Linked DNA regions of Homo sapiens. The protein of the gene in region 1 purifies or fractionates together with the protein of each later gene. This does not show direct contact. Each region holds a gene or a part of one and is shown in the gene's direction. Other genes may lie near its edges. The genes, in order: DCLK2, DCAF4, ZBTB5 and PPP1R9A.

What was found.
Region 2: the proteins of DCLK2 (region 1) and DCAF4 purify together in Homo sapiens (co-immunoprecipitation; one large-scale study listed by IntAct). This does not show direct contact.
Region 3: the proteins of DCLK2 (region 1) and ZBTB5 purify together in Homo sapiens (affinity purification with mass spectrometry; one large-scale study listed by BioGRID and IntAct). This does not show direct contact.
Region 4: the proteins of DCLK2 (region 1) and PPP1R9A purify together in Homo sapiens (affinity purification with mass spectrometry; one large-scale study listed by BioGRID and IntAct). This does not show direct contact.

What each region holds. Positions count from the first base shown.
Region 1 is NC_000004.12:150,074,484-150,082,756, forward strand, and holds the start of DCLK2 (serine/threonine-protein kinase DCLK2), read left to right. Parts: upstream 1-3,961; 5' UTR 3,962-4,544; coding exon 4,545-4,965; intron 4,966-8,273. UniProt on the Homo sapiens protein: Protein kinase with a significantly reduced C(a2+)/CAM affinity and dependence compared to other members of the CaMK family.
Region 2 is NC_000014.9:72,953,009-72,960,541, forward strand, and holds the end of DCAF4 (DDB1- and CUL4-associated factor 4), read left to right. Parts: intron 1-1,152; coding exon of another isoform or gene 1,153-1,155; coding exon 1,156-1,254; intron 1,255-1,377; coding exon 1,378-1,475; intron 1,476-2,514; coding exon 2,515-2,688; intron 2,689-3,377; coding exon 3,378-3,492; intron 3,493-5,603; coding exon 5,604-5,797; 3' UTR 5,798-6,695; downstream 6,696-7,533. UniProt on the Homo sapiens protein: May function as a substrate receptor for CUL4-DDB1 E3 ubiquitin-protein ligase complex.
Region 3 is NC_000009.12:37,440,857-37,448,389, reverse strand, and holds part of ZBTB5 (zinc finger and BTB domain-containing protein 5), read left to right. Parts: intron 1-5,834; 5' UTR 5,835-5,838; coding exon 5,839-7,533. UniProt on the Homo sapiens protein: May be involved in transcriptional regulation.
Region 4 is NC_000007.14:95,244,342-95,251,874, forward strand, and holds part of PPP1R9A (neurabin-1), read left to right. Parts: exon of another isoform or gene 1-1,568; coding exon of another isoform or gene 1,569-1,597; intron 1,598-2,213; coding exon of another isoform or gene 2,214-2,270; exon of another isoform or gene 2,271-2,641; intron 2,642-2,658; coding exon of another isoform or gene 2,659-2,746; intron 2,747-3,131; coding exon 3,132-3,185; intron 3,186-5,684; coding exon 5,685-5,914; intron 5,915-7,420; coding exon 7,421-7,517; intron 7,518-7,533. UniProt on the Homo sapiens protein: Binds to actin filaments (F-actin) and shows cross-linking activity. Binds along the sides of the F-actin. May be involved in neurite formation. Inhibits protein phosphatase 1-alpha activity.

The sequences.
Region 1 (8,273 bases):
ATGAAAAGTGATTGCATCTCAATTCTTATAAGAGGATCACAAATAAGATTCTTCAAGAAAACAAGTGTGGAGAGTAGGATCAAAAAAACATTTTTTAACTAAGTAACAGCTTTGGAAATACTTTCTCTTTTCCCCCTACCCCTGTTGAAAAGCAGTAACCTTTCTTTAACTTAAGGATATAATGTTAGGGAATAATGTTAAAATACTGGCATATTTTTATTTTTTTAAATTTTACTTTAAATTCCAGGATACATGTGCAGAATGTGCAAAGGTATACATGTATACGTGTTCCAAGGTGGTTTGCTGTACTTATTGACCTGTCCTCTAAGTTCCCTCCCCTTGTACCCCACCCTCCAACAGGCCTTGGTGTGTGTTGTTCCCCTCCCTGTGTCCATGTGTTCTCATTGTTCAACTTCTACTTATGAGTGAGAACATGGGGCATTTGGTTTTCTGTCCCTGTGTTAGTTTGCTGAGGATGATGGCTTCCAGTTTCATCCATATCCCTGCAAAGGACATGATCTTATTCTTTTTTATGGCTGCATAGTATTCCATGGCGTGCATGTGCCACATTTTCTTTATGCAGTCTATCACTGATGGGCATTTGGGTTGGTTCCATGACTTTGCTATTGTAAACAGTGCTGCAGTAAACATACGTGTGTGTGTGTGTCTTTATAGCAGAATGATTCATATTCCTTTGGGTATATACCCAGTAATGGGGTTGCTGGGTCAAATAGTATTTCTGGTTCTAGATCCTTAAGGAATTGCCATATTGTCTTCCACAATGGTTGAACTAATTTACATTCCCACCAACAGTGTAAAAGTGTTCCTATTTCTCCACAGCCTCGCCAGCATCTACTGTTTCTTGACTTTTTAATAATTACCATTTTGACTGCCATGAAATGATATCTCATTGAGGTTTTGATTTGCATTTCTCTGATGATCAGCGATGTTGAGCTTTTTTTCATATGTCTGTTAGCTATGTAAATGTCTTCTTTTGAAAAATGTCTGTTTATATCCTTTGCCCACTTTTTGATGGGGTTGTTTCTTTCCTTGTAAATTTGTTTAAGTTCCTTGTAAATTCTGGATATTAGACCTTTGTCTGATGGGTAGACTGCAAAAATTTTCTCCCATTCTGTAGGTTGACTGTTTACTTTGGTGATAGTTTCTTTTGCTGTGCAGAAGCTCTTTATTTCCATTTGTCAATTTTGGCGTTTGTCGCAATTGCTTTTGGTGTTTTCACCATGAAGTCCTCACTCATCCCTATGTCCTGAATGATATTGCCTAGGTTTTCTTCTAGGGTTTTTATGGTTTGGGGTTTTACATTTAAGTCTTTAATCCACCTTGAGTTAAAAATACTGGCATATTGTATAATTGTACTCACTATTTAAGAAGGGCCAAATCTCTTATCAAGGATCTTTGAGTGAGGAAGTGCATGTTAGTGTTCTAAAGATTGAAAGATTGAAACCCGTGGTACCAGTCTGCAAGATGACCCCAATAATTGCTGACTCCTAGTCACACCCTAGTGTAGTCTCCTCCCACATCAAACAGGGCTGCCTTGTGTAACCTACAGGATATTGTGGGAATAACAGTGTATGACTTCCAAGGCTATATCATAACACACATTGTGGCTTCCACCTTGTGCTCTCTTGGATGCTTTCTCTAGAGCAAGCTTGTCCAACCCATGGCCTGTGGACTGTACACAGCCCAGGACAGTTATGAATGCAGCCCAATGCAAATTCGTAAACTTTCTTAAAATATTATGAGATTTTGTGATTTTTTTTTTTTTTTTAGCTCATCAGCCATCATTAATGTTAGTGTATTTCCTGTGTGGCCCAAGACAATTCTTCTTCCAATGTGCCCCAGGGAAGCCAAAAGATTGGACACCCCTGCTCTAGAGGAAGCCAACCGACAAGTCATGGTGACACTTAAGCAACTCTATGGAAAGGTACTCATGACAAGGAACTGAGGCCTCCTTACCATTCATGTGAATGGGCTGTCTTGGAAATGGATCTTCTTGACCCAGTCAAGCCTTTAGATGGCTGTGACCCCTGTCAACATCTTGACAGCAATCACATGAGGCTTTGAGGTAAACTGCTCCCAGATTTCCGATCTGCCAAAAATGCTGAGATTATGCATGTTTATTGTTGTAAATCATTAAGTTTAGGATAATTTGTTTCTACAGCAATAGTTTACAAAGTCTTTTTCCCCCTAAGAAATACTAACAGTGATACAAATGAACATGGCCATCTTAAGGCAAGTTGATGGGCTCTGTGGAGTTACTGGTACTTAGATGGAAACTTATCTCAATAAATTTGCAATTTAGTTTCTTGTTTCTCAAAGTCTTGTACCAAGACCAGCAGCATTGGCATTACCCAGGGGCTCATCAGAAATGCAGAATCTCAAACTCCACCCCAGAGCTACAGAATAGCAATCTGCATTTTAACGAGATTCCCCTATGACATGTAAATATATTAAAGTTTGAGAAGAAGCACTGATTTATTTGATTCCTGGTGTTACAGCCTGTGGTTGGAAACTCTGGATATACCTTAGGGGTACTTTTAAAAAAATACTGTTGGAGAAGCCCGTCTCCAGAAATTCTGATTTAACTGATCTAGGTTGAGGCCTTTTAAGGTGGTGGACCTAATGATGCTGCAGGATTTTCCTCTAGAAAAACTACATTGAAGCCTCAGATCAGCTCTGACTTCCTAGCATGCCCCAACCCCGCAGGAAGTTAGGTATGCCCAGGTGTATGCCCAGAACTGCCTTAGGAGTAGTATTGTGCACCGAGCAGGAGACCTTTCTGGAGCTGCCATGAAGGGTGTGTATGCGTGTGTGTGCGTGTGTTTGGTGGGGCGCACCAACTTCACAGATGCTAGACCGTTGCATGTGCTTCTACCTTCTTTTATTCATGCTCTTCCAGGACTCAGTTCAACCCGAAAAAAAGCAACTATGCCTTTCTTCCTGAAAGGTCAGTTTGGATTGCTGTCTAGGGCTGCTCAGAAAACCAGGTGTTGAATGTTCTAAGGTTTCACGTGCCAAATTGGGATCAAACATATTTGAGCTTTATTTTTCCTAATAACAAAATGCAAGTAACTAGTATTTCTCTTAAGTCTTGGAAAAGATGTTTTTATTGTTGAATAGACACTACGGCATTAAGATTTCCACTATGATGGGTGCTCACAAATGATAGGCCTCTTAGGTAAGAAGCTTTAATTGACAACATTAAATATGCGGGGCGGGGGGAGTGGGTGCAGAGTCTCTCTTTCCTTTGTTAGGGCATCCCAGTGACAGAAACAATGCCTGACACATGGTACGCTCTCGATAAATATTCGTTGATTACATAACCCCCTCTACCACCCAATAACTTCTCATCATTCATTCAAAGTTACTGAACGTACCATATTAGCGAATCTGCAATGGAAACAGTGGAGGCTGTTTTCTCAAAGGATTTTCTAATAAAGCAACAAATCTTTTTTAAAAAAAATGAATGGTGTGCCCCAAGTCAATGCTGGGCTTCGGATTTCTGCGGTAGTTTGGCCTGGGGTCCTCACTGGGATGCTGGCTGGGGATGTGCTCCCTGCCCTTGAATCTCCTTCCTTTGTAGTTTTTGGCCTGCGCGGTTACGTTTCCCAGGCGGAGGAGCGCGCGTCGCGGCTGCGCCCATTAACGCGCGGCGCCGGGCAGGAGCCGTCAGGCGGGCGGGGCTGCCCGGGACCCGCAGGAGCTGCTCCTCCCGCGCCGGCGCTCGGCCCCCTCCTCCGCCCCCTCCTCCGCCCCCTCCTCCCCTTCTCCGCGGTTTGGCATCCCCGGGGCCGGGAAGCCTCCTCCAGCGCTGACAGCCTGTCGGCGGCGGAGGGAGGCCAGAGCGCGGATGCTTGCCAGTGGGCCGGGCCTGACCGCTGCGTGGGAGGCGGGCTGCATTATTTCCCGCTAGGGCCGCGCTCCAGGGAAGGAAGGGGCCAGACACGGCCCTCTCAGCCCCGAACGGCGCGCGCTGCCCGGCGGGCGGGATCCGGGCGCGGCCGAGGCGGCGGCGCTGCACCCCGGGCCTGGGCCCGCGCGACTCCCCCGGGGGCCTCTCCCACGCTCCGCGCCCCGCCCCACCCTTCCTTCCTTCCTCCCCTCGGCGCTCCCGGGAGCGCTCGGCAGACGCCCGAGCTTTGTGGGCGCCCGCGGGCCCAGCGCGAGCCTCGGGCGGCCCAACTTTGCCTCTCCCGGTCGGCTCCCGAGCGGGACTTGTGAGGCGTGGCCGGGTGGAGGAGGCGCTTGCGGGGGCGTGGGGCTCCCCGGCAGGCGGGAGGCACGGAGCAAGTCGCACTGGACAATGACCTGGGCAGCTCGGCGCTGCGGACACTTTTAGCTGAGGGCGCGGGCGGGTCGGCTCCTCCGCGGCTCCTCGGCCCCACCTGCGCGGAGAGGGCGGGATGCCAGAGCCAGGTGTCCCGGCGCGTTAAGGGCCCTCGCAGTCAGACGTCCCTGCACCGGCGCTCGCACCCTTAGTCGGCCCGGAACGTCTTTTTGCGGACGCCCTCGGAGCAGCCGCGATGGCCAGCACCAGGAGTATCGAGCTGGAGCACTTTGAGGAACGGGACAAAAGGCCGCGGCCGGGGTCGCGGAGAGGGGCCCCCAGCTCCTCCGGGGGCAGCAGCAGCTCGGGCCCCAAGGGGAACGGGCTCATCCCCAGTCCGGCGCACAGTGCCCACTGCAGCTTCTACCGCACGCGGACCCTGCAGGCCCTCAGCTCGGAGAAGAAGGCCAAGAAGGCGCGCTTCTACCGGAACGGGGACCGCTACTTCAAGGGCCTGGTGTTTGCCATCTCCAGCGACCGCTTCCGGTCCTTCGATGCGCTCCTCATAGAGCTCACCCGCTCCCTGTCGGACAACGTGAACCTGCCCCAGGGTGTCCGCACTATCTACACCATCGACGGCAGCCGGAAGGTCACCAGCCTGGACGAGCTGCTGGAAGGTAGGAGGGGAGGGCGCCGCACGGCAGGTGCGGCGGAGCGCCGGCAGGTGCAGTGGGCGTGAGCCGGCGCAGCGGGGAGCCCGCGGGGTGCTTTCCAAGCCGCACGGGAATTGATGCTTCTGTCTGCTTCTCTAGAGATTGGCTGGGGGTGGGGGCCGGTGGGGTGCCCACATACACACTGACTTTCCTTCCCAAGAGGTTTGTCTCTTAAAGAAGGAAAAAATTTCCTGATGGTCAGGCCAATTTAGGCACTGGTGGCATCTCCTAAGATTGTTGAACTTATTTGTATTGAAGTGCAAACTGTTTGAGAAAATGGTTCTCCCATGGGGAGCTGGGTAATCCCCTACTAATAAGCTCTGTTGGACCCTCGGTGTGGACCCTGGTGCAGGCTCCTGTCATGTTCCAGTATTCGGGGTCCTGTTGTGACTGCTGTCAGAAGCTGTGGTTGTGAAATGCTCTAGGTTGGCTTTCCTAGTTTGCCTTGCAGCAGAAGTTACTTGAGGTGAAGAGGGATGATCCTAGACAGCAGGTCTCAACCTTGGCTTCATCTTGGATCACACTGGGGACTTCGAAAAATATGGGACCCTGATCCCCCAACCCCCAGATATCCTGATTAAATTGGTTGGGTTTGGGGTGTGGGTTAGGCGTCTGGAGTCTCAAAAGCCCCCCCCCCAGGTGATTCTAATGTGGGACCCTGGTTAACAATCACCGTGCTAAAGGGTTTTCCACATTTGGTTGGAAAAAAGGTAAATCAAGGTCAATCTCTCCAGCCTTATCCTCTAATAAGAGTACCTAATTAGAATGATAGAGGCCATTGGATTCAGCAGTGGGGACTTATTAAAAATTAGTAATTCTGCTGTGTCAACCATGCCTCGGTCAAAGAGACTGCTTGGCTGGATGTTGGGTCATCCTTGAATTCCTGCAATACGTATGCCTCATCCTTTTCAGGTAGAAAAGGCATTATCAGTGGTTAAGAACCTGTTTCCAGTTCTAAATAACATCCAGAAAGACCAGGCAGAACCCAGGTATGTGCTGACTGCGTGTTTACATACAGTCCGCTCTTGTGCATCTTTCTTAATGCAAATGGCACATTCCATGTAGTCATAGCAATAGCTTGGCAGGGAGAGGAAGCTGAACATCAAGCCAGATGTTTTTCTTATATTATCTCAGCATGCTTTTCTGTCCTGAAGGCATTATCCCCATTTTATAGATGAGGAAACTTAGGCAGCATGCCTTGCCTCACAGTGCCTGCAGCATATACTTTCTCGTCTACGATTCACCTCTGCTGAGCTAATGGAGCCACATGGAGGAAAACTAAAGGTCGTTGAGTTTGTCTATTTAGTCAGAAGTTTTTGCTGCCCTGCCTAGAACGCGACCCAGCCAAAATTAAATTGTCTCTTCAGTCTACATATGTATGTGCTTGTGACTTCACCCATTCTGTCAGTTGTGTGTTTTGGTTTTAAGGGCTTCTTGAGGAGGTAAGGGGATAGCTGGAGGAGTATAAGTAAAAAAGGAAGATACAATGTTCAAAGGGCCTTGTTGCTTTTCTTAATCATGTTAAACACTTAAAAGCAATATTTGCCTAGCTATTTTAAAACAGAGTAACCAGTTGTTTGACTGACCCAAGATCAGATTTGCAGGATCAAGGCAATGCCTGTTTGCTTAAGCACTTGTTACTCAACATGCCATTGGGATACTACTGTTCCTGGTATGGTTTCTTAAGAGTCAACAATGTTAATATCCTTCTCTAAAGAAATTTTAACAGTGGATTTACTACATAAAATTGACATAACGTAAACATGAATCTCATAGGAGAGATGATAAGATGGACATTATGCATGTCCATTAATAGGAGTACTTAGTATAGATTGCGTCTTTTACCGCCCACCGCATGCATGTCCACTGGGTCTACTTCTGCAACTGTAGTTTCAACTACAAATTGACTTAACAAATTTCCTTCAAATCATTCACTGATTTTTAGTGGATGGGGATTTGGAAAAAACATTATCTATGGAGTCCAAATCATACCAAAATATGATAAATAATATAACAAATAGTTGCACAGCCAAAATTTTTTTTATGACTTTGCCCACTTCTTTGAAGAAGTTTTTAATACAATAAAATTACTGCAAAAGAAGAAAACTTGGACACTTTTTTTGTCATATGGAACTCTCTCTGACAATGGGTCTTTGTTTAATTCTTCAGTTTTCCCCCAAATTAGTAGAATACTCCATAGCAATGCAATTTTTTTTTTAAAGAAAATATAGGTACAATAGTTCACGTCTGTAATCTCAGCACTTTGGGAGACTGAGGTGGGTGGATCACCTGAGGTCAGGAGTTCGAGACCAGCCTGACAAACAAGGTGAAACCCCATCTCTACTTAAAAAAAAAAAAAAAAAATTAGCCGGGTGTGGCGGCAGGCGCCTGCAGTCCCAGCTACTCAGGAGGCTGAGACAGGAGAATTGCTTGAACCCAGGAGGCGGAGGTTGCAGTGAGCCAAGATCACACCACTGCACTCCAGCCTGGGCGATGGAGCAAGACTCTGTCTCAAAAAAAAAAAAAAAAAGAAAAGAAAAAAAGAAAAAGAATCACGAATGCTTACTGTCAATCATTCCAGAATGTAAGTAGTTTCAACTTTTAATTAAAATTGTGTGCTCAGATTTTTCATGTAGGAGAACTAAGCAGCTATCTGTGAAGTTATTTGCATTAGTAAAAATAAGTCTGTAATATATTCACCACATTGTCAAAATTGACTGCTTTATTTCGTTTTGGTTGATTATTTTTAATAAAGCTCTCTCAGGTAGTATTTTACAACATTATGTTCAACTAGGCTCTACTTCTTCGATCCCATGAAACTTGTAGTTTAAGAGGTATGTTTTTTTCTGAAATGTCTTGAGTGAAGAATAGAAAGTGATGACTCAAAACAGTAGGATATGAACATTCATTCAGAGCCCCAATCTCATTGAACTCAGATGACAAAAGAAATTTGCATGGCCCAAATTATTTTTTCTTCTGCCCTTGACCTTGAGAGTCTCTGGAGACTAAAAGCTGTTCTAGTGTGAGCTGGCACTCCTCCAGCACTACACTAAACCAGCAAGCACCTTCAATTTATTGATTTATCCATCCTTGCTGGATTAAGTTTGAGTTGATGCTGTGCAGTCCTGTAATCCTGTTTATTCTTTAAAACTAGTTGGGGGACCTCTTCCGGCAGGACTGTGGCTCTTAATCAATATTGGAAAAATTAGTTGAGCTGTCTTAAGCTGTGAGCCTGCTGAGCTCAGTATCTGTAATAACCAACAGAGAATGTC
Region 2 (7,533 bases), on another chromosome or scaffold:
TTTTTTTTTGAGATGGAGTTTCACTCTTGTTGCCCAGGCTGGAGTGCAATGACACGATCTCAGTTCACCGCAACCTCCGCCTCTGGGGCTCAAGCGATTCTCCTGCCTCAGCCTCCCAAGTAGCCAGGATTACAGGCATGTACCACCACACCCGGCTGATTTTTGTATTTTTAGTAGAGATGGGATTCTCCATGTTGGTCAGGCTGGTCTCGAACTCCCGACCTCAGGTGATCCACCCGCTTCGGCCTCCTAAAGTGCTGGGATTACAGGCGTGAGCCACCACGCCTGGCATGGATTGTTTTATTTCTTAACCTGGGTGGTGGGTACATGGCTATATTTAGTTTGTGATAACTCACTGAACTGTATCCTTACAATCTGTACGTTCTATCAATGCAAAAGTTTATTTTAAAAAATATTTTTTCGAAGCACAGTGGCTCATGCCTGTAATCTCAACACTTTGGGAGGCCAAGGCAGGATAATCGTTTGAGCCCAGGAGTTCAAGACCAGCCTGAGCAACATAGCAAGACTCCAATCTCTACAAAAAATAAATAATTAGCCATGTGTGGTGGCTCACACCTGTGATCCCAGCTACTTGGGAGGCTGAGATGGGAGGATTCCTTGAGCCTGGGAGGTTGAGGATGCATTGAGCCATGATCACGCCACTGCACTCCAGACTGGGCAAAAGAACAAGACCCTGTCTTAAAAAAAAAAAAAAAAAAAAAAAATATATATATATATATATATATATATATATAGTTTATTTATTTATTTATTTGTGTGTGTGTGTGTGTGTGTGTGTGTGTGTGTGTGTGTGTGTGTGTATATACACACACACTTGCCTGAGATCACATAGCTGGTAGGTGATCGAGGATCGGAGCCACCTTACCTCCAACAGTATACTACCTCCCTGATATCAGTACTATTCGTACTGTAAACACGACTACTGGGAACGTTAACAAAGATGCATTTTCGGAATAACCACTTGTGAGCCAGGCATCCCAGCTGAGTCTCTCTTGCAACCACAAAACCCAGAATGGGGCCAAAGGTATAGACCCTCTGAGCAGCTATGGGCATATTTGGATGTTTTCCGAACCCAGTGGTCCCTGGCCTGCCTAGAAGGCAGCCACACTTTACATTCTCCTATCCCCTTAGCAGGAATAGACCGGCCTGGCATGCTCTGCAGTTTCCGGATCCCTGGTGCCTGGTCCTGTGCCTGGTCCCTGAATATCCAAGCAAATAACTGCTTCAGTACAGGTGAGCCTGGCTCCCCAGGTGCCCAGAGAAGAGGCCTTAACAGGCCTTAAAACCCCATGTAGTTGTCCCTCTCCCCAGACTACATGTGACATAATCTTACCAGCCCATCTCTGTCTCCGCCAGGCTTGTCTCGGCGGGTCCTGTTGACCAACGTGGTGACGGGACACCGGCAGTCCTTTGGGACCAACAGTGATGTCTTGGCCCAGCAGTTTGCTCTCATGGTTGGTTGGATTGGGACAGGCAGAATATAAAAGTTTGCCCCATGTAGAAATTTGGCCAGATTGAAATTGGACTCCTCTGTGTGCCATCTAGTACTCTTTGACAGGGGAGAAAGAGCATCAGAAAGGATCAGTGGGTTCCTTTGTAAGGGTGTCTGAGCCGAGTGAAAGTTGGTTGATCCAGAAAGGCTGGCCTGAGTTGCTCTACACAACCTCTCATGGAAAGGTATTGTGAGCAGTTCTTGGGTACTTGGATTTACCCAGTAGGACAAACCATTTTTAAAATGTATAAGCCAAACACCAATTCTTCACAGCTCCCAGGTTATATATTTTATATGTTTAAAAAATCAGGCCAGGTACAGTGGCTAATGAATGGCTGTAATCCCAACACTTTGGGAGGCCAAGATGGGTGGATCACAAGGTCAGGAGTTCAAAACCAGCCTAGCCAAGATGGTGAAACCCCTTCTCTACTAAAAATACGAAAGTTAGCCAGGCATAGTGCTGGGCGCCTGTAATCCCAGCTGCTCGAGAGACTGAGGAGAATTGCCTGAACCCGGGAGGCGGAGGTTGCAGTGAGCCAAGATCACACCACTGCACTCCAGCCTGGGCAACAGAGCAAGACTCTGTCTCAAAAAAAAAAAAAAATTGTGGTCATTACTATATTTCACAGACTTTTCTCTAGAAAATGCCGTCTTCCCTTAAAAGTGAATGAACCCACTAACCTGCTTTTGGTGGAGATGGAATGCTATCTCTGGGACTTCAGAGAGAAAGGCCAAACGGGACAGTGCAGGGGGGTGGGGGGCAGCTCCTAGGACCTCCGTGCTACCCATGAGGAGGACACATGGGGTCTGGTTCTTCTAGCCACTAACAAGGAATCATCCTCCCTTCCAACTCCATTGAGACCCAAACCCTGACCAGCACGTGTCTAATCACACCGTCTGACCCAGAGGCTGGAAGAGGGGTTGTATCAGGAGGACCTGCCCTGCCCAGCCTCAGAGGGATGTCATGATAGCCAGGCACTGAGCAGTCCCTCTTTCCACAGGCTCCTCTGCTGTTTAATGGCTGCCGCTCTGGGGAAATCTTTGCCATTGATCTGCGTTGTGGAAATCAAGGCAAGGGATGGAAGGCCACCCGCCTGTTTCATGATTCAGCAGTGACCTCTGTGCGGATCCTCCAAGATGAGCAATACCTGATGGCTTCAGACATGGCTGGAAAGGTAGGGGATCATGGACTTTCTCAGGCCACAGGGTCTCGTGGCCCAGTGCCCTGCCAGGTGAAAGGGTTCTGCTGAAGAGGTCCTCACACCAAGACCCCAGGCAGGGGAATTTCGCTGAAGACCAAGTGATTTGTAGGCCCTGCATGGGGACTGCTTCGTTGACCATATGAGCCTAATCTGACGTAAACAAAAGTGAAAAGGATTCTCTGGTTATGTCCTTTTTTTTTTTTTTTTTTTTTTTTTTGAGATGGAGTCTTGCTCTGTCGCCCGGGCTGGAGTGCAGTGGTACTATCTTGGCTTACTGCAACCTCTGTCTCTCAGGTTCAAGCGATTCTCCTGCCTCAGCCTCCTGAGTAGCTGGGATTACAGGTACCCGCCACTGCGCCCGGCTAATTTTTGTATTTTTAGTAGAGATGGGGTTTCACCATGTTGGTCAGGCTGGTCTCGAACTCCTGACCTCATGATCTGCCCACCTTGGCCTCCCATAGTGCTGGGATTACAGGCATGAGCCACCGTGCCCGGCCTGGTTACATGCTTTTGATGAACAACAAGGCTCAAGAATTCGAGATGGAGATCTTCATGACCTGCACAGGCCACTGGAGACCACCTTGCCTTCCTGGCTTTGCACTTGGGGACCACCATGGTACCCCCTGGCCCCTCCCTGATGGCCCCTGGTGCTTTTTCCACAGATCAAGCTGTGGGACCTGAGGACCACGAAGTGCGTAAGGCAGTACGAAGGCCACGTGAATGAGTACGCCTACCTGCCCCTGCATGTGCACGAGGAAGAAGGAATCCTGGTGGCAGGTACTTGAGGAAGGAAGGGGAAGTTCCACCCCATCAAATACTGTCTCTCAGGGGCGATCCCAGCAACTTCAGCAGCAGAGGGAAAAGTTACCCCAAAACAGAACTGAATCAAGGGGAGTGTGGACAGCTGGGTGGGGAGACTAGGAGGGAAGTAGAATTAGATTATATTAGTAATCAGGAGTGTAAATAAATGTCCACCAGGTGGACAGCCTCATCCCATGTCAGTGGGCAAACGTCACTTCAGAAACAGGCAGGTGGGGAGGTCCTGGGGAGCCTGGGTTTGGAGTTTGAGTGGATTTCATCAGGCCAGCATTATTCCACCACGCAACTATCTTATCCAAAAACTTGGGCTCCCTGTTGTCTCTACTCACATTTCCACCAGAGGATGCTGAGAAAAGAAGTTATGGTCATTGTAAAGATTCTTGGCCCCGGCCCGGCGCGGTGGCTCACGCCCGTAATCCCAACACTTTGGGAGGCCAAGGAGGGTGGATCACGAGGTCAGGAGATTGAGACCATCCTGGCCAACATGGTGAAACCCCATCTCTACTAAAATACAAAAATTAACTGGGCATGGTGGCACCTGCCTGTAATCTCTCAGCTACTCGGAAGTCAGAAGCAGGAGAATTGCTTGGACCAGGAAGTCGGAGGTTGCAGTGAGCCGATATCACGCCACTGCACTCCAGCCTGGCAACAGAGCGAGACTCCGTCTCAAAATAAATAAATAAATAAAAAAGATTTGTGGCCCCTTTACTACCATCCCTGTGGCTCCATGATCTGCAGATTAGGAGCAGCTATCTGGCCACTAAGCCCCCTGGAAGGGAGTTACCAGTTGATTACAGATGATGGTGGCTATAGCGTAATCAGACAGTGTGCAGGCTCAATGCTTTCACACTGAAATAGTAGCTGCTGACACTGCAGAATGTGTTCTCAGTCTTCAAGAATTGTCACCTCTACTGGTATTCCTATAGAAAGGGCTTATACCCCATGGAACATTTTTGTGGCTAGGAAGCATTACTTTGTTAGGACATTCATAGACTTATTTACTATTCTCATCAACACCAGGACTTCGCCTCCTTTTTAAGTCGATTTTTCACCTGTTTTTATCACAGAAGAGCTCTTGTGAGCTGGATGATAGAGAGAGCTCAGCCTTGCTGAGAGGCAGATGCAGGTAGTTACCAGCTGCAGTAATAAACTGCAGCCGGGATTCAGCTTCAGCCAAGATAGCACTTCTGGTCTTAGAGCCACACAAGTGATCAGAATCACAAATGTGAAATCCATGACTGCCCAAGGCCTGTCCTCTTCTCCTGCTGAAGGTCTCCAGTAGTGTATATCATGTTTCTGGGCTGCTGTAACCCATGCTGTTGTGTGTCACAGTCCTCAGAACTGGAGCCCTGAAGACTTAAACCGGTCCTAGGAACTGAAGCATTAAACCAGAAAGAGCTGTGGGGAGAGTTGTCAACCTAGCCCATCCCCAGGATGTAATGACTTTGACAGATCTTTTACTATAACATGAAAAGATCAGGCCAGGTGTGGTAGCTATAATTCCAGCACTTAGGGAGCTTGAGGCCAGGAGTTTAAGACCAGCTGGGGCAACACAGCAAGACCCTATCTCAAAAAAAAAAAAAATTAGGCATGGCGGCACACACTTGTAGTCCCAGTTAACTCAGGAGGCTGAGGCAGAAGGATGGCTTGGGCCCAGGAGTTCAAGGCTGCAGTGAGCCCTGATCACACCACTGCACTCCAGCCCGGGCGACAGAGCAAGACCCTGTCCCTAAAAAATGGGGGAAATCAGTTGCATGTCACCTAGACCAGGTGGGCCACACTCGCACTTGAACGTTCCGTGACATCAAGAGCAGCAGAATACCCAGACATTAGCCAGGATGTCTCCGAGCCATTCATGGCATCACACAGCCAACCAGGGCATCTTGTCATTGTTCTAGCACAACAGGGCGACTTGGGTTATCCGTAGAAATACTGTCCGTTAATGAGTTTGTGTTTTGGCTCACATGAAATCACAGCCCTGAGGAATCTTGGGAAGCCATGTCCACATGTAGGTAAGTTTTCCTTTGCATTCTCTCACTAGCCTGCCATGTGTCTCTCCTCTTTCCTAGTGGGCCAGGACTGCTACACGAGAATCTGGAGCCTCCACGATGCCCGCCTACTGAGAACCATACCCTCCCCGTACCCTGCCTCCAAGGCCGACATTCCCAGTGTGGCCTTCTCGTCGCGGCTGGGGGGCTCCCGGGGCGCGCCGGGGCTGCTCATGGCTGTCGGGCAGGACCTTTACTGTTACTCCTACAGCTAATTCTGCAGGGCACAGCCCAGAGCCATGTGGATTTGACTTACGGGAGTAAAGCGTAACTTTTTACTGCATCTAATGAGGGTGTTTTAAGTGACACTCAGTGTACACAGATCCCATCCTCTGGCTGCTAGGAGAGAAGTGCTGAATGTTCCGTGTGGAGATGCTCAGGAAAGTTATTTGAGTTAAATTGCTGGCTGAGAGAGCTTGGAAGTCCTTTTCATAAAAGGTACCTCTTTCCTTTTCTTATTGAATTCTTAGAACTTAGTTAACCCTCCCTGCCTTTTCTTAACAAAAAGGACTTTTCTAAGGACTGAAGATTGGCAAAAACGAAAAGCTTCTTCCTCCAAGAGCCCATTGAAGAAGCCCAGTGATGAGACGGTGAGATGGTTTGAGTCCTCGGTGCCTGGGTAGCAGGAAGAAAGACCTGCATCCTGCATCTGTACTTGGGGAAGCCAGCGGAGAGGACGGGGAGGTTACTTCTCTAAGTTTCTGCAGAAATATTGAAGGCTGGAGTTTGGAATCCTTAAACTTGGCCTTCTCAAACTCAGCAGCAGATCTCCGGGATTCTGCTGTTATTATCCAAAGGCGTTGGAAGGAAAGATGGATCTTCTTACATGCTAGAAGTTTTAAACGGTCCTTAACATGCCTTTGTTCAAGCACCTTCCAGAATGTAAGGTTCAGCAGCTCTGGTTTCTATTACGGTGACTTGAATGTCAGATTCAAGGGCCCGGCGTCAAAGGAAATTGGTTTTGACTTTTTGTAATCTAGGAGCGACAGTTCGTGAGATGTTTATTCAGTGTTAAAGAGCCTGTTTTTCTACCAAACAATAAAACCAAGAGAAGAATCATGGTGTGACATGCACTTCTGTGAATGACTTAGGAGATCATGAGCTTGGGCTGCTGGGACCAGCTTTCATAGCCTTCCTGGAGAGCTTCCCTGGGCCCCTCCAGACCCACTCTGCCCTCATCATCTGTCCATCTCCACCCTGCTCTGTGCATGCCCAAAAGACTCACCTCTGGACTAGGTCAGGGTTCCCTGGCTCCCAGCAGCTAGGTAGGTTCAGCCAGTGGGAAGCAGCAGTAGAACACAGAGGGCAAGAGGAGAGGGAGTGGTTCCCCGGCTCCCTTCTGGTTGGGCTGTGGGTGGCTGTAACCAAAACCCACCACTTCTATTGGAAAGCGCTCAGAGAGAGCCGGGTTCCAGCAACTCTTCATTTGTCCCTTCAGACCTACAGCTGGTCATCACACCTCACTGTTGCTGGCCCAGAATGCCTCACTAGGTAGACTCGCAGTTACCCACTTGAATGTTTCCTGCCAGTACCCTGACTAATACAGCATATTCTATAAAGAACCAAATTTTTTTTTTTTTTTTGAGATGGTGTTTTATACTTGTTGCCCAGGCTGGAGTGCAATGGCGCTCTCACCGCACCCTCCACCTCCTGGGTTCTAGTGATTCTCCTGCCTCAGCCTCCCGAGTAGGTTGGATTATAGGCGCGTGCCACCACGCCTGGCTAATTTTGTATTTTTAGTAGAGATGGGGGTTTCTACATGTTGGTCAGGCTGGCCTCAAACTCCTGACCTCAGGTGATCTGCCCGCCTCAGCCTCCCAAAGTGCTGGGATTATAGGCCTGAGCCACCGCACCTGGCCCGATTCTTAAATATATTTAATCCGTCCGCCCCAGTTATCTAAGGCTCTGACCTCTTCCTTCTCCCACCAGCAAACCCCAGGGCAGTTTGCAC
Region 3 (7,533 bases), on another chromosome or scaffold:
CTGCAAATTGTGATTCCCACTTTCCCAAGGTGGAATCATAGTTATGATGCAGACATTAGCCTCTGTATTGCCTGAAGATGGTCTGCCAACAAGGTATAACAGGAAGTTCCAAGCATCCCTAAAGTGTTTTGAGAGGAATGTGGAGAACTTGAGTTGGTCTCAAGGCCTGTGATGGGGGATCTAGTGTAGAGCTGAGGATCTCTAGGCTGATGGGAAGTTAAAAGATTGTAGGTACTGTTTGCCTGTCTTCCAGTATTACTTAAACCTTTTATCTTTGTTGGGGTTGTGTTTAGCTACCTCAGTAGCCTCTTTTCAAAGATCCCCTGGCTCTTGGAAAATTTCCTCAAAATGGTGTTTCTGGGACCACAATTTAAAAAAATTGTTTATTTATTTATTTTAGAGATGAGGGCTTGCCATATTGCCTAGGCTGTTCTCCAACTCCTAGGCTCAGGTAATCTTCCCATCTTGGCCTTCCAAAGTACTGGGAATTACAGATATGAGCCACCATGCCCAGCCCCGTAATTTTTAAGTAAGCCATTTTTCTCATATAAGTTCTTTTGCTTATCTAAAAAAAAAAAAAAAGAAGCATTGAGCAGAATATTAGTGCCCTTTTAAATCAGTATGCCTAGTTGAAATACTATTTATTTGTGAAGTCAGTCTTTTATGGCCCCCCTCACCTATTAACTCAGGAAAATAATTCCCACCTGCCACTGTTGTTTTGAAGATTAGAAATAATGTAAATTAAAAGTACTTAGCATAATGACTGTCAGGCTCTCAGTAATTACTGTTATTATACCTGTAATCCCAGGCTGGCAGGAGGATTGCTTGAAGCCAGGAGTTCAAAGCTGCAGTGAGCTATGATCATGCCACTGTACTCTAGCCTGGGCAACAGGGTGAAACCCTGTCTCAAAAAAAAAGCACAGTAAAAAATATATATTTTATTACCACTACCATTACCTCTGTTACTGTCACCAGTGAGACTGTTACTACAATGCTGGGTGATATGGCTTGGCTCTGTCCCAACCCAAATCTCATCTCAAATTGAATCCCCACATGAAGGGAAGGAGGTGATTGGATCCTGGGGGTGGTTTCCCCCATGCTGTTCTCCTGATAGTGAGTTCTCACAACATCTGGTGGTTTTATAAGTGACAGTTTCTCCTTCACACACTCACACTCTTCTGCCACCATGTGAAGAAGGTCCTTGCTTTCCCTTTGCCTTCCACCATGATTGTAAGTTTCCTGAGGCCACCTTAGCCATGCAGAACTGTGAGTCAATTAAACCTCTTTCCTTTATAAATCACCCAGTCTTGGGTATTTCTTTATAGCAGTTGAAAACAGACTAATACACTGGGTCTATTCCCCACTGTAGGAGAGAAAGCAGTAACGCTGAGTGTCTAGTGTTCCTTGTTTTTGCCTGTTGAGCCCAAGCTTCCATGGTCGCTTAGAAGAGCAACTCTGAGTCTTGTACAACTTCCCACCACAATTCCCTGTTTATTTTATTCCTCAAACCAGAATGTTTCTTCCCTGTTACTGCTACAAAATAATTACCCCTCTGGAACTTGGCACTTATTCATATATGAGTGTACTTTCTAAGGCAGGGCTATAGACTTAATGAGCAGTAATTGCATTTTGTTTAATCTCCCCAAAGCCTTAAGCTCTGTGGGCCCTGAGTGAGTCGGGTGGGGACCCGGGATGTGTGTGCTGCTGCCTGCCACTGCTGGCTCTCTGCTTTCTGCCGGAAAGCTTGGTAAAGCAAGAAGGGATGTGGCAGTGGCTGCATCTTTGGAGATCTGATCTCTCATACATGATAGCAAAGAACAGACACCTCAGTGGGAAAGTATGTGTGATCTATTTTGTTGTTGAAAGTTCATCAAAGCTCAACAAACATAGGCAAAACAATATGGCCAACATGTGTCTGCTGCTTTGAGGCATTTGCTTTTCCGATAGTTAACTTTCCAAGTATAGCTGAATAGCATAATAGTCTCAGTCGCCACAGTAGACCCTTGAATTTTGTGGACTTAGTTTGCCATTTCAGTTATTTCCCAGGATCCTGACCAACTTTGGCCTGTAAGGCTGTATGGCTGGGACATCAGAGCAAGTGGTTGGGCCTGGGGAGCCACTTGGCACCCATGCTGCCTTCTTATGAAATGCCATGATGGTATTTGTGAATTTTGGAGATTTGCAAAGATCTCAGGTATATCCCTTTAGAATATCATAGATCTACCTTTTTTAAATTTAATTTTATAAATATATGTGTATACATTTTTATGTATTTATTTATTTGAGACAGAGACTTGCTCTGTCGCCCAGGTTGCAGTGCAGTGCAGCGATCTTTGCTCTCTATAACCTCTGCCCCCTGGGCTGAAGCAGTCTTCCCACCTTAGCCTCCCAAGTACACTGGGACTACATGGCAGGCACTCGCCACCATGGCCGGCTACTTTTTGCATTTTTAGTTGAGATGGGGTTTTGCCATGTTGCCTAAGGTGGTCTCGAACTCCTGAGCTCAAACAATCTGCCCGCCTCAGTCTCCCAAAGGGTTAGGATTACAGCCATGAGCTACCACACCCAGCCTATAGTTCCATAAGGCTTATAGGTAAAAAGAAACAAAAACAACAACAAAACAGCAGTCCCCTGTCCCATCCTTTTCCCCATCAATTACCCACTCCTCAGAGGCAACCACTTTCAATTATTTCAGCTGTTTCTTCCACTATTGACTTCCATATTTCTTTTTTCTTTTTTTTTTTTTGACAGGGTCTCACTCTGTCTCCCAGATTAGAGTGCAGTGACGTGATCTCTGCTCACTGCAAGTTCTGACTCCGGGCTCAAGTGATCCCCCTCAGCCTCCCAAGTAGCTGGGACTGCAGGCACATACCACCATGCCTGGCTAATTGTTTTTGTATTTTTAGTAAGAGATGGGGTTTTGCCCCATGTTGCCCAGGCTGGTCTTGAACTCCTGGGGGCTCAAGGGACCCACCTACCTCGGTCTCCCAAAGCGCTGGGATTACAGGCGTGAACCACCAAGTTGGTTAACTTCTATACTTCTAAATAACATGCCAAATTACTATTTTTTGAGATAACCTATTTCAGACTGTATTTCTAGATTAATAAGGAAAGTGAAGATTTAACTTTATTATACCTCATCTCCTCTACCCTCTTCCCCCATGCAAAGTTGCTTTCTCTCATCCTCCCAATATCTCACATTCGGTTTAGTGTACATATTTTATGACTGTGTAAATATTGTCTACGAATGAACTACATATTGTGTCCTGTGAGTAAACAACCTTTTTTTTTTTTCCTGGAGTTAATCATTGATCCATTTAAAAACTTCTTGTTTTTTTTAATGACCTATCTGCACACTTGGATAGGACTGGTAAATTACAAGCACTCCCAGTCACATCAGGTTATCTATCCATTCCTTTTTTTCCCACCCCCCTTGGAGACCCACTCCTTGGAGTCCTTCCTGCTCCAGTCTGACTGCTTTTGCTCTCCAGGCCTGCTGCCTAGTTGTCATCTGGAGCTTCATCATCATCCTTGGGATTCCCTTTGCCTGTCTTCTCTGGTGGGTCTCCTGTTTCCTACAATCTTAGTCGCCTCCTGAGAAAGGATAAACCTTTGGGTTCTTATCTGAAAATGCCTTAGTTTATCCTAATTGATTAATAGTTTAGCTGGGTGTGGCATTCTAAGTTGGAAATCATTTTCTTGGATAATTTTGAAGGAACTGTCATCTTCTAGCTTTTAGTGCTGCTGTGGCAAAGACGAATGCCAATTTTATTCCTGATGTCAGCCTAGTGTGGGGATTTGTATCTTCATATTTTGAGTACTTGTTGGGCCTTTTTAGTCTTAATAAGCAAATTTCTTCAGTTCTCAAAATTTAAAAAATACCATTTCTTGGCCGGGCGCAGTGGCTCATGCCTGTAATCCCAGCACTTTGGGATGCCAGGGTGGGCGGATCACCTGAGGTCAGGAGTTCAAAACCAGCCTGACCAACAAGGTAAAACCCCTGTCTCTACTAAAAATACAAAAATTAGCCGGGTGTGGTGGCGTGCACCTATAATCCCAGCTCGTCAGGAGGCTGAGGCAGGAGAATCACTTGAACCCGGGAGGCGGAGGTTGCAGTGAGCCGACATTGCGCCACTGTACTCCAGCCTGGGGGAACAGAGCGAAACTCTGTCTCAAAAACAAAACAAAAAACCATTTCTTACATCATTTTCACCCTCTGTATTCTTCCTTTTCTCTTTCTGTAGTCAAGATATTGGACCTGATTAATTCCTTCTCTTATTCATTCACTTATTTTTATTTTATTTTCTGAGACAGGGCCTTGCTCTGTTGCTTAGGCTGGAGTGCAGTGGCCCAGTGACAGTTCACAGAAGCCTTGACTTCCCAGGCTCAAGTGATCCTCCCACCTCAGCCTCCCAAGTAGCTGGGACCACAGGTGCACGCCACCATGCTCGGCTAATTTTTTTTTGAGACAGGTTTCACTCTGTCACCCAGGTTGGAGTGCAGCAGTGCGATCTCTGCTCACTGCAGCCTCTGCCTCCCAGGCTCAAGTGATCCTCCCCCTTCAGCCTCCTGAGTAGCTGAAGGCACATACCAGCATGCCCGGCTAATTTTTTGTATTTTTGGTAGAGACAGGGTTTCACCTTGTTGCCCAGGCTTGTCTCAAACTCCTAAGCTCAGGCAATCCTCCCACCTCAGCCTCCAAAAGTGCTATAGGATTACAGGCATGCGCCACCACATCCTGGTGTTTTTTTGTTTTTGTTTTTTTTAATTGGATAGATTTTCAGCCAGGCCTCCTGCCTTAGCCACACCTTCATTCCATTTCCCCTGGCAAGGGCAACCAGTTCCTTGGCCTTTGGGAATGAGATTTATATATGTTAGGTTGTTTTATCCGCTGCCCAGTTTAGGATTTTCGCTTTTGGGGTGTGCTGAGTCAGTTAGCACTCATTTACCTCTCCCCAGCTTCCAAAATGCTATTGAAGGCCTTCTCATTCTCTTTTTCCTTGTGGGTTTACACCTTTAAAGTTTAAACAAAAACTTTAGTGTTTTTTTTTTTTTTCCTTTGAGATGAAGTCTCACTCTGTCGCCCAGGCTGGGAGTGCAGTGGTGTGATCTCAGCTCACTGCAACCTCCGCCTCCTCAGCCTCCCGAGTACCTGGGATTACAAGCATGCACCACCATGCCTGGCTAATTTTTTGTATTTTTAGTAGAGACAGGGTTTCATCATGTTGGTCAGGCTCGTCTTGAACTCCTGACCTCAGGTGATCTGCCCGTCTCAGCCTCCCAAAGTGCTGGGATTACAGGCATGAGCCTCCATGCCGGGCTTCGTGTCATTTTAGTGGGGTTTCAGGAAAAAGCACGGGGCAAATGCGTGTGTGCAATCTGCTACCATCTATAACTGGAAATCTTCCACACTAATATTGATTTGCCCTTTTCACTTATTTAGGGTTCCTAAGACTTTGGAATTTCTTGGTATTCATTCCTCATCCTTAGGGAATGCAGAATTCTAACAAACTTCTGTGGGATAGATATGCCATCACTCACACACTGGTCTTTACTAATTTAGACCCTTAGTGTTATACATGGCTCATATGAAGAGTAAAGGGGAGCCTGTCGGTAGCTAGGCCCACATGTGTGCATGCCTCCTGGGCTGATGGCTGAATTGCCATTTGCTTCTTATATGACAAGCTCTTAGTGTATGTGCCCATTATCAGAGATATCACGGGCTTCAAAGGTCCAAGCTTGGCCATCCATTCCACTCTTTTCATCATACCCTTTGTGTTCTGACTTTGAAGCTTTTCTAGGTCTTAACATTTTCTTTCTTTGTTTTTCTGTAGGATCATGGATTTTCCTGGTCACTTTGAACAAATCTTCCAGCAGCTGAACTACCAGAGACTTCATGGCCAGCTCTGTGATTGTGTCATTGTAGTGGGGAATAGACACTTTAAAGCCCACCGCTCCGTGCTGGCAGCATGCAGCACGCATTTCCGAGCCCTGTTCTCAGTGGCAGAAGGAGATCAGACCATGAACATGATCCAGCTGGATAGCGAGGTGGTGACAGCAGAGGCCTTTGCTGCACTGATTGACATGATGTATACCTCCACCCTCATGCTGGGGGAGAGCAATGTAATGGATGTCTTATTGGCAGCCTCTCACCTGCATTTGAACTCTGTTGTTAAGGCATGTAAACATTACTTAACGACAAGGACGCTGCCCATGTCTCCCCCCAGTGAGCGCGTTCAGGAGCAGAGCGCCCGCATGCAGCGCTCCTTTATGCTACAGCAGCTGGGACTAAGCATCGTGAGCTCAGCCCTCAATTCCAGCCAGAATGGCGAGGAGCAGCCAGCCCCCATGAGCTCTTCCATGCGCAGTAACCTGGATCAGCGCACGCCCTTCCCCATGAGACGCCTTCATAAGCGCAAGCAGTCTGCAGAGGAGCGGGCCAGGCAGCGCCTCCGACCCTCCATAGATGAGTCTGCCATTTCAGATGTTACACCGGAGAATGGGCCTTCAGGGGTTCATTCTCGGGAGGAGTTCTTTTCACCAGATTCTCTGAAAATTGTGGATAATCCTAAAGCTGATGGAATGACTGATAACCAGGAAGATAGTGCGATCATGTTTGATCAGTCTTTTGGCACTCAAGAAGATGCCCAGGTGCCCAGCCAGTCTGATAACAGTGCTGGCAACATGGCACAGTTGTCCATGGCCTCTCGTGCAACTCAGGTTGAGACTAGTTTTGATCAGGAAGCTGCACCTGAGAAAAGTAGTTTTCAGTGTGAAAACCCTGAGGTTGGCCTTGGTGAGAAGGAGCACATGAGAGTGGTGGTTAAATCTGAGCCCCTGAGCTCACCTGAGCCTCAGGATGAAGTGAGCGATGTGACCTCACAAGCAGAAGGCAGCGAGTCTGTGGAAGTGGAAGGAGTTGTGGTCAGTGCCGAGAAGATAGACCTCAGCCCTGAAAGCAGTGATCGGAGTTTTTCAGATCCCCAGTCTAGCACAGACAGGGTAGGTGATATCCATATTTTGGAAGTCACAAATAACCTAGAGCATAAGTCCACTTTTAGTATTTCGAATTTTCTTAACAAGAGCAGAGGAAATAACTTTACTGCAAATCAGAACAATGATGATAATATTCCAAACACCACTAGTGACTGCAGGCTGGAGAGTGAGGCCCCCTATTTGTTGAGTCCAGAGGCTGGGCCTGCAGGTGGGCCCTCCTCTGCCCCTGGCTCCCATGTAGAGAACCCATTTAGTGAACCTGCAGACTCCCACTTCGTCAGGCCTATGCAGGAGGTGATGGGCCTGCCGTGTGTGCAGACTTCAGGCTACCAAGGAGGAGAACAGTTTGGGATGGACTTTTCCAGGTCTGGTTTGGGCCTCCACTCCTCCTTCTCCAGGGTAATGATAGGTTCCCCAAGGGGAGGAGCCAGTAACTTTCCTTACTACCGCCGCATAGCTCCCAAAATGCCAGTTGTAACTTCCGTCAGGAGCTCACAGATCCCAGAAAACTCTACCAGTTCTCAGCTAATGATGAAT
Region 4 (7,533 bases), on another chromosome or scaffold:
TATTCACAAGAAGGAAAATATTGGCTCAGGACAAGAATTTCTAAGCTCTGCAACCTTGACAACTACCTTCAGGTTCTTTGTTTCATAAATGTCACACCTGTTGTATGTGAAAGGGCCCTTGGAGTTCCTCACATCTAGCATTTTTCATATGGGAAACTGAGGCCCAGAGAAGCAACTTATAGAAGACACAGTGATCTGAGAAAAGAAAGTCCAAAATGCCAACAAGCTGCATGCCACGTATTTGGTTACCCTACGAGGAGTTAATAAAATCTGTCACTTGCCCATAGTGCAGTGTTCACTGTGGAATCTGCCCTTTTGATTTCTTGTTTCTCTTTAAATTGAATCAGAGGTGTTCATTTTACTTCAGGTGTGACATTTTACAGCAGTTAGCACATTTAACTGAGAGGTGAAGCTGGGGTAATCATATTTGAGTTATTCAGATCATTCTTTCTTGGTCCTAGCTGAGTTTATTGAGGACATACTATATGCTAGCCACTGTGCTAAGTGCTTTATATGGGTTTTATCACTTAATCATCCAATAAGGAAGGTTATGACTTATAAGGAACTGAATTTTACAGGCAAGGAAAGTGAAATGAAAGAGGTTAAGTAATTTTCTAATGCTCCATAGAGTACATGGTAGACCAGAGATGAATTCAAGCAGTCTAAGTTAACTACTCTTCATGCTTGGCACATGGTTGAAAGAACAAGAAGTATATCTTGTCAATAGCGATTGCAAATCCTATAAAATCACCTAAGTGTATGGATTTTCTGGATGCCTTAGCACATAGCCATGTATGTTTGTGTGCATATACATTATTTGTTTTTGTAGATTTATATATAAATAATGTGTCTAATGTCTAAGTACTTTTGCCCTTTTTTACGTTATTAGTTTATACTGGTGGGGGAGATTAGCCCTAATATTTATTAGAGGGAGAAAAAGTCATTTTTACAGCATCCTGCACATAGCAACTCTTCAACGAATGCCTATTGAATTCATCCTTATTTTCTAAGGAAAGTGGCAATGGATCAGAACGAGAAGATCCAGGTTTTAGTTCTGGTTTTAATGGTGATTCACTGTGAGGAAAAGACCAGGTTGGCTGTCTTCTCCAATCTTTAGTCTTCCCGTGTCTAAAATGAGTTCAGAAGAGCCTACAGTTGGAGCGTCCACTGGGCATTCAAGCCTATCTGACTGGCTAGCCTGGTGTGTCAGGATTCCAAAAGATCCATCCAGACTAGGACTTAGGATGAGTATAGACCTCATCAGTGAAGGGGTAGGAATTGCAGGGATTTCTGAGCAGCACTGTTGTGTCTTTACACCTTCTTCCAATCTAGTCATTGAGAAAACTTGTGATTAGGTTCCTTGCCAGGTGCACTAATACTCTGAGCATCTGCTAAAGGCAGGTAAGTAAGAATTGTACCACTTGTGCTGTGGTAAGAAACTAAAAGAGCCAGATTTTGTGTCTTATAAAAATAACATTTCCACATAGGGTCCTACTCTAGAAACTGTTCAAGCATAGAAGCCCCTAGGAGCCGGTGAGGGTGCAAGGAGCAATAGCCACACCAGCAAGATGGCCAGAGTGACCAGGTCAGGAAGAATGTAAGCAGTGTGAGTGCGGCAGAATCAAACTGAAAAGTTTCAAAATCACTCTCAGCACCAAGAGCAGTAACAAGAGCTGTGGCAGTGCAGACCTCATGCCTTTTGCATAACAGGAGGAGCACTTTACAAGGAACTTAGGAACCCTCAGGTTCTGGGCAGTTAGCCACAGGCATCCAAGGGGGTCGAATAGACCTGTCCTTGGTTCTTCCATCTTCCCTTTATCATCCTTCCCATGTGTCCCCATGAACTTGGTAAAAACCCAAGGGAATACAGGTTGCAAACCCAAGAGAGGGCTGAGGTTTATGAGGTGCTGTGGTCTCCACAGGTTCACATTGCTAGTCTGAAAACTCCACATTTCTGTCCTTCTGTCAGACTCACTCACTTCTGATAAGAAAACCTCTTAGCCTTACTTGATTACAGTAATAGTAAAAGTTTATGGTCCCTCATGTACAGTCTTAAATCCAAAACGCTCCCAGTCTTTTTTGTAATTTTGTGTCAAACTAATTTAGTGGTACAACCTGACCTAACAGGATGCTATTTACAGTCTTCATGTACCTCGCTTAGTGGGAATATTCATGTTTGGTGGCAAAAATAATTCATGTGTTTTTGACTATAGAGTGCCTCCAAAGACCCTGCTGTGGATAATAAGCAATTTGTAGAAGATACATCGTAACTACTTTTCTGAAGTTGGAAGAATGCTGACTTCCAAAAACATCTGGCCCCAAGGATTTCAGACAAGAAATTGTGAACCCATAAGTTGTTTTTCTTAAATTTGGGAGTATTTATTGATCCCCTAAGGAAACGAATGATTCGTTCAGTTCCTTCTTCTTCCCTTACAAAGAAAACAAAGCGGGGGGAGGGACAAGCAAAACAAATGTAAACTGTGACTCTTATTGCTAATAAGCTGTGGCAGAAGCTGTTGGGGGTCTGAGTCTTCAAAAGGAGCAGATCTTTTGGAGGACAGAAATCTGGATCTGTACCTTTCCTGCAATTAAAAGAAAAAAATATGTATCAGAGATTTCCCCGTGCAACTGCAGTCCTCCTCCTCTCTCCCTTTGCAGTGGAGCTGCTGATCAGAATGTGCTTGCAACTCACAGGACCATAGCGCCACCTTTCTTGCAGATTTGGAATAAATCTTCACACGTCCAGGTTTGGAATTAAATCACACTATCAGCTCACTTGCCTGTGTATGCCGTTCAGTTAGCTAGACTTAGCAAGGAAACAGTTCCTTGACGCTCAAATCATAAAGGAAGAGCTGCAAAGAGGGCAATAAAAAGTGTTTTCTTCTCTTGGTCCCTGAGCAATTAAATTGGTAACCTAATCTGATGTTAGGGAGTATAGACCATAAACTGTGTTTAATTAGTTTGCACCCAGTGTCATTTCACACAGTAGACACTTTAATTTACAACTTGCTGCACTGCAGCACTTTTCTAGGCCTTTTACTATGTAATAAGGCATTCTTGTAGCTGCTGAGGCTTTACAAATATAGATACACTTTCTTAGTTCAGATTTTTTCTTTCTTTTCAATTTTCAGTTGCAAATCAAACATGCAGTTACAGAAGCAGAGATTCAAAAATTGAAGACCAAGGTAAGCACCGAAACATGGTGTTTGAATTTTACTTTTTAAACTTCAGATACTATGAATAAATCCAATCCTAGGACTAAAGGTTTTGTCCCTGTATATTTGAAAGAATGCAAATGTGATAGATTCATTTTCACTGTCAGGTACGTAGACAAACCTGCCAGTGAGAGCAAACACCCACATCCCCCTCAGTGCAAATAACACAATATTTTAGATATATATATTTATGTATTTGCACATATGTGGCCTCTGAGATTTCCTTAAAAAGTAATATTTTTAATGGTTCAAGTATGCAAAGTATGTTTTGATTACTAATTCCTTAAGCAAAGCTACTATATCTCCTCTTCACTTACCTTATTATAAATAGATTTAATCATTTGTAGGAACAAATTTAGTATAGCACATCAATGTTTTATAAACCATTTCTAATTTCTAATAATTAAATCTTATAAACTTAATACATGCATAATTTAAGTGCCAGGTACTACTGGAAATTTTTAGTTGTTTGGTTCACATAATTTAAATTTGTGGGGGAGAAAAGGTCTTGATAAAAGGGAGTATGTATTATTAGTCTATATATTTTCATTGACAAACTTTAAGGCACTCGTATGAGACACAATTCTAGCAATTTTGTTTAGTTTTATCAAATATACAATTTCAAAGATTTAAAAATATATTTTAAATTACTTTTAAAGCAATATTCTTTATTGTTTCAATGGTCTTTTAAAAATTAAAACATAATTACCCTCCCCCGCCCCCAATCACCACCACCACTACCACTAATGATCTCTTTTGTTGTTCACATTGAACACTTGTTTTGGTTTCTCCGTGTGTTTTAAATGGAGATGAATTAGCAAGGCTATTTTGGTTAAATGCTATTCTCAGCTAATTCACTCTGCAGCTCTTTAGTCAAAATACGACTATACATCATTCACGGTGTTAGTCCAGCTCCGTGAATAATAATTTTAAATTAGTGGCGGTTGCTAAATAAACAACTTGATACAAAACATTGCTTAATAAAAGATGCAGTAAATAACCTATTCCTGTTTTAAATTGTCATTGTCTCTTGACATAGAAAGAATTGAAGATTTTTTAAATTGTTGTTTTAAAAAGATCTCTTTTTCCCTGTGATTGTGTTTTAATGGCGCTTATGTATTAGACTATAGACATTTAACTTAGAAAATACTATAAATTAGCATTTTATATTTTTTCATCATTATATTGGCATGTAATATCCACAGATTAGCACTTTATTATGATTCTTTATTATTCATTTTGATAATAGAATTCCTAATCTTGACATTGTTTTGGATGCTTTCTAACTTTGTAAACTGTTTTGCAAATGTGTTTAGTTAAAAATATTTGCAAAAACATAGATGTGTGTGTATATAAATACATGTTTACTTTTGCTAAGTGCTATATGATTTTGAACATTGATAGTTTATAATGACTTTGCATCCTTTTGAACTTTAAAGAAGGCATATAAAGTAGATAAAGTACCAGTTTGAAGGCCAGAGAGTTATTGGGAATGACTTTTGAGCCCTCACCTAAATGATCAGTATTGGATTTCTGTAGAAATGAGGGTATTAGACTAGTTTACTATCTATTCCTAAGAGTCCCTAGAAGCAGAAAAACAAAAAGCTGGTTATGGCTTTCTGTTCCGTGGGAGGGAATTAAATTAACCAAGCAAAAATTTATACTTTTACTTACACTATCTTTTATATTTTTATGGGAATTGAGGTTTATAAAGCTTGAGAAATTCATTACACTACATGTAAAATAATGAGCTATAGAATATGTTCATGTTCCTTGAAATAAAGAATGAAATAAGATCACCAAAAGGGTTAAAAGCAGAGTGAAAGTGGTTAATGTTTATCAGATGATTCTTATGCCCAAGGAGCTATTTCAAGCATTCTGATGTGTTATATCACAATTCTGTTGTATGGATGATGTAATTGAGTCTTGGAGAACTTCAATTACATGTCCAAGGTTTAATGGCCAATAATGACAGAACTGGGATTCAAATCCATGCTGAATGACTCCAGAGATCCCCTCTTAACCATTAAGCCATACTGTGCTTCTAACTCCTCTCTCCTCCCTGGCCCTCTCCACTCCCTTTTTAGTTAATTTTTTATATATAATTATATATTTTTTAAAAACTCTCAAAACATGTTGACATTCGTTGGATATATCAAACTCTGAAACATCTTTTACTGCTCACAGAATTTCAGATCACCTGGTGTGATGGAAATATCGTGTGAGGTGGAATCCAATCCATGTTTTATCACTTATCAAATGTGTGACCTTGGACAAATCATTTCACTTTTCAAGGCTTCCATTTTATCATCTGTGGAATTATAAAAATAATACCTGCTTTTCTCATCTCAAGTGGATTCAGTGATTGTTTATGATAATAGAACTTGATCTACAACATGCTATAAAAATGAGAGATTTTTGCCACAAAAGTGGCCAAATTATCTTTGCCTTGACGTTTGCTTTCTCCAGCTGCAGGCAGCAGAAAATGAGAAAGTGAGGTGGGAACTAGAAAAAACCCAACTCCAACAAAACATAGAAGAGAATAAGGAAAGAATGTTGAAGTTGGAAAGCTACTGGATTGAGGCCCAAACATTATGCCACACAGTGAATGAGCATCTCAAAGAGACTCAAAGCCAGTATCAGGCCTTGGAAAAGAAATACAACAAGGCAAAGAAGTTGATCAAGGATTTTCAACAAAAGTAAGCCGCTTCTAATAACTAAAGAATAGTTATGTTTGTCTAAAGAAGGTTTATGTCCAATAATTTTGTAATATCTAGTGGAACAGAAAAGATGACCTTAGAGATATCTTTCCTATCCAGGAGCATAGTTACAGCATAAATACACATTAAGTTTTGGAAGTCACTTCTATCACTTTTTCATGAGATTATGTTTTGTATATTTTATAGTTTTTGGCTGCCAGGGCCTCTTTGCTATTTTTGATAATTAATCGTTGTTTATAACTGTTAAAACATCTGAATTTCTTTATTCTTTTTGAAACACCTCTATGATTTAGAAACAAGAAGCCCAGCGGAAAGTCATGTAGAATGACTGACTATTGGATGTGGAGCACGCAAGCCACAGCTGGGGCCTGAATCAGGCTGCTCCTCTCTATTCTTAGATCAGTAACTACAGAATTTCCCACTACAGACAGTGCACATATCGACTAGCAAGGCCCCCTGCCCTGCCACTCTGCATTTCTCAGCTGTTGAGAGAATCAGGAGGGCCTCCTTTCACTGCAGGGAGAGAGACCATTACCACATTCTGCTTTTGATTTTCAACAGCTGTTTCTGAGCTACTGCTCCTTTGCTTCCATCTCTTGGATCTCGGTGTAATGTCACGGAGACTGACCACGGAGATTTTTACTAGATTTTTTTCATCAGTTACTTCTGGCTAGTTAGAACAAATAAGTAGTACCAGTACCTTTTCTGGTCTTCCATGCCAAGCCTCAGAAGCTAAGCATATATGTAAGATTAACCATATTTCTTTTATTTCCTATTATGTGGAAGAATGTTTTTAATATTTAAAAGAGTTTTGCTATCAAAAGTTTCTTGTTAAAAGGGGAGTAATTATTCTCTGTGACTATAAATTCAATACATCACTGTTTTAACTATTTGCCAAACTCTTTTTCATGAAATAATTTTATAGTAAATTTTGCTAAATTTGCATATTCTATTCCAGGTTTTCAAAATGGAACTGTTTCTCTTCTCCCCATATTATCCTTAGGTCTATAAGTGAGTGCCCCTCTCGATGTTTCTGACCCACCCAGCCCCCTCTTCACTGTTATTCATAGAAATCTTACAATTATCTTTTTCGAACTCTTATCTAGTTACATCAGTTTACTATACTATGCTTATGACATTGGAAAAATGGAATTATTTCTACCTGACAAGTAATTATCTCCACTAAATTACCCAATGTGGGTCATTAGTGCAGTCTTTCCTATCTAAATATGTATGGGTGTTCTAGAATCAGGAGCTACGAAAGAAAATTATAGTAAGCAGAATCGAATCATTTTTCTTTGCCTTGTGACCCATTAAAGATGTTTTAGTTTCTTTCATTACTATACTTTTTCCTCTAACTGATTGAATGTTGTCCATTTAAATAACTGTTCAGTTGCTTATCCTACTATGCAGTTTATTGTTTCAGATAAGAACTTTCATTTATTGAGTGTATGATATAATCAGAACTATTATTTTCTTCTTAAGAGAGCTTGATTTCATCAAAAGACAGGAAGCAGAAAGAAAGAAAATAGAAGATTTGGAAAAAGCTCATCTTGTGGAAGTGCAAGGCCTCCAAGTGCGGGTAAGTTGTGTTCCCT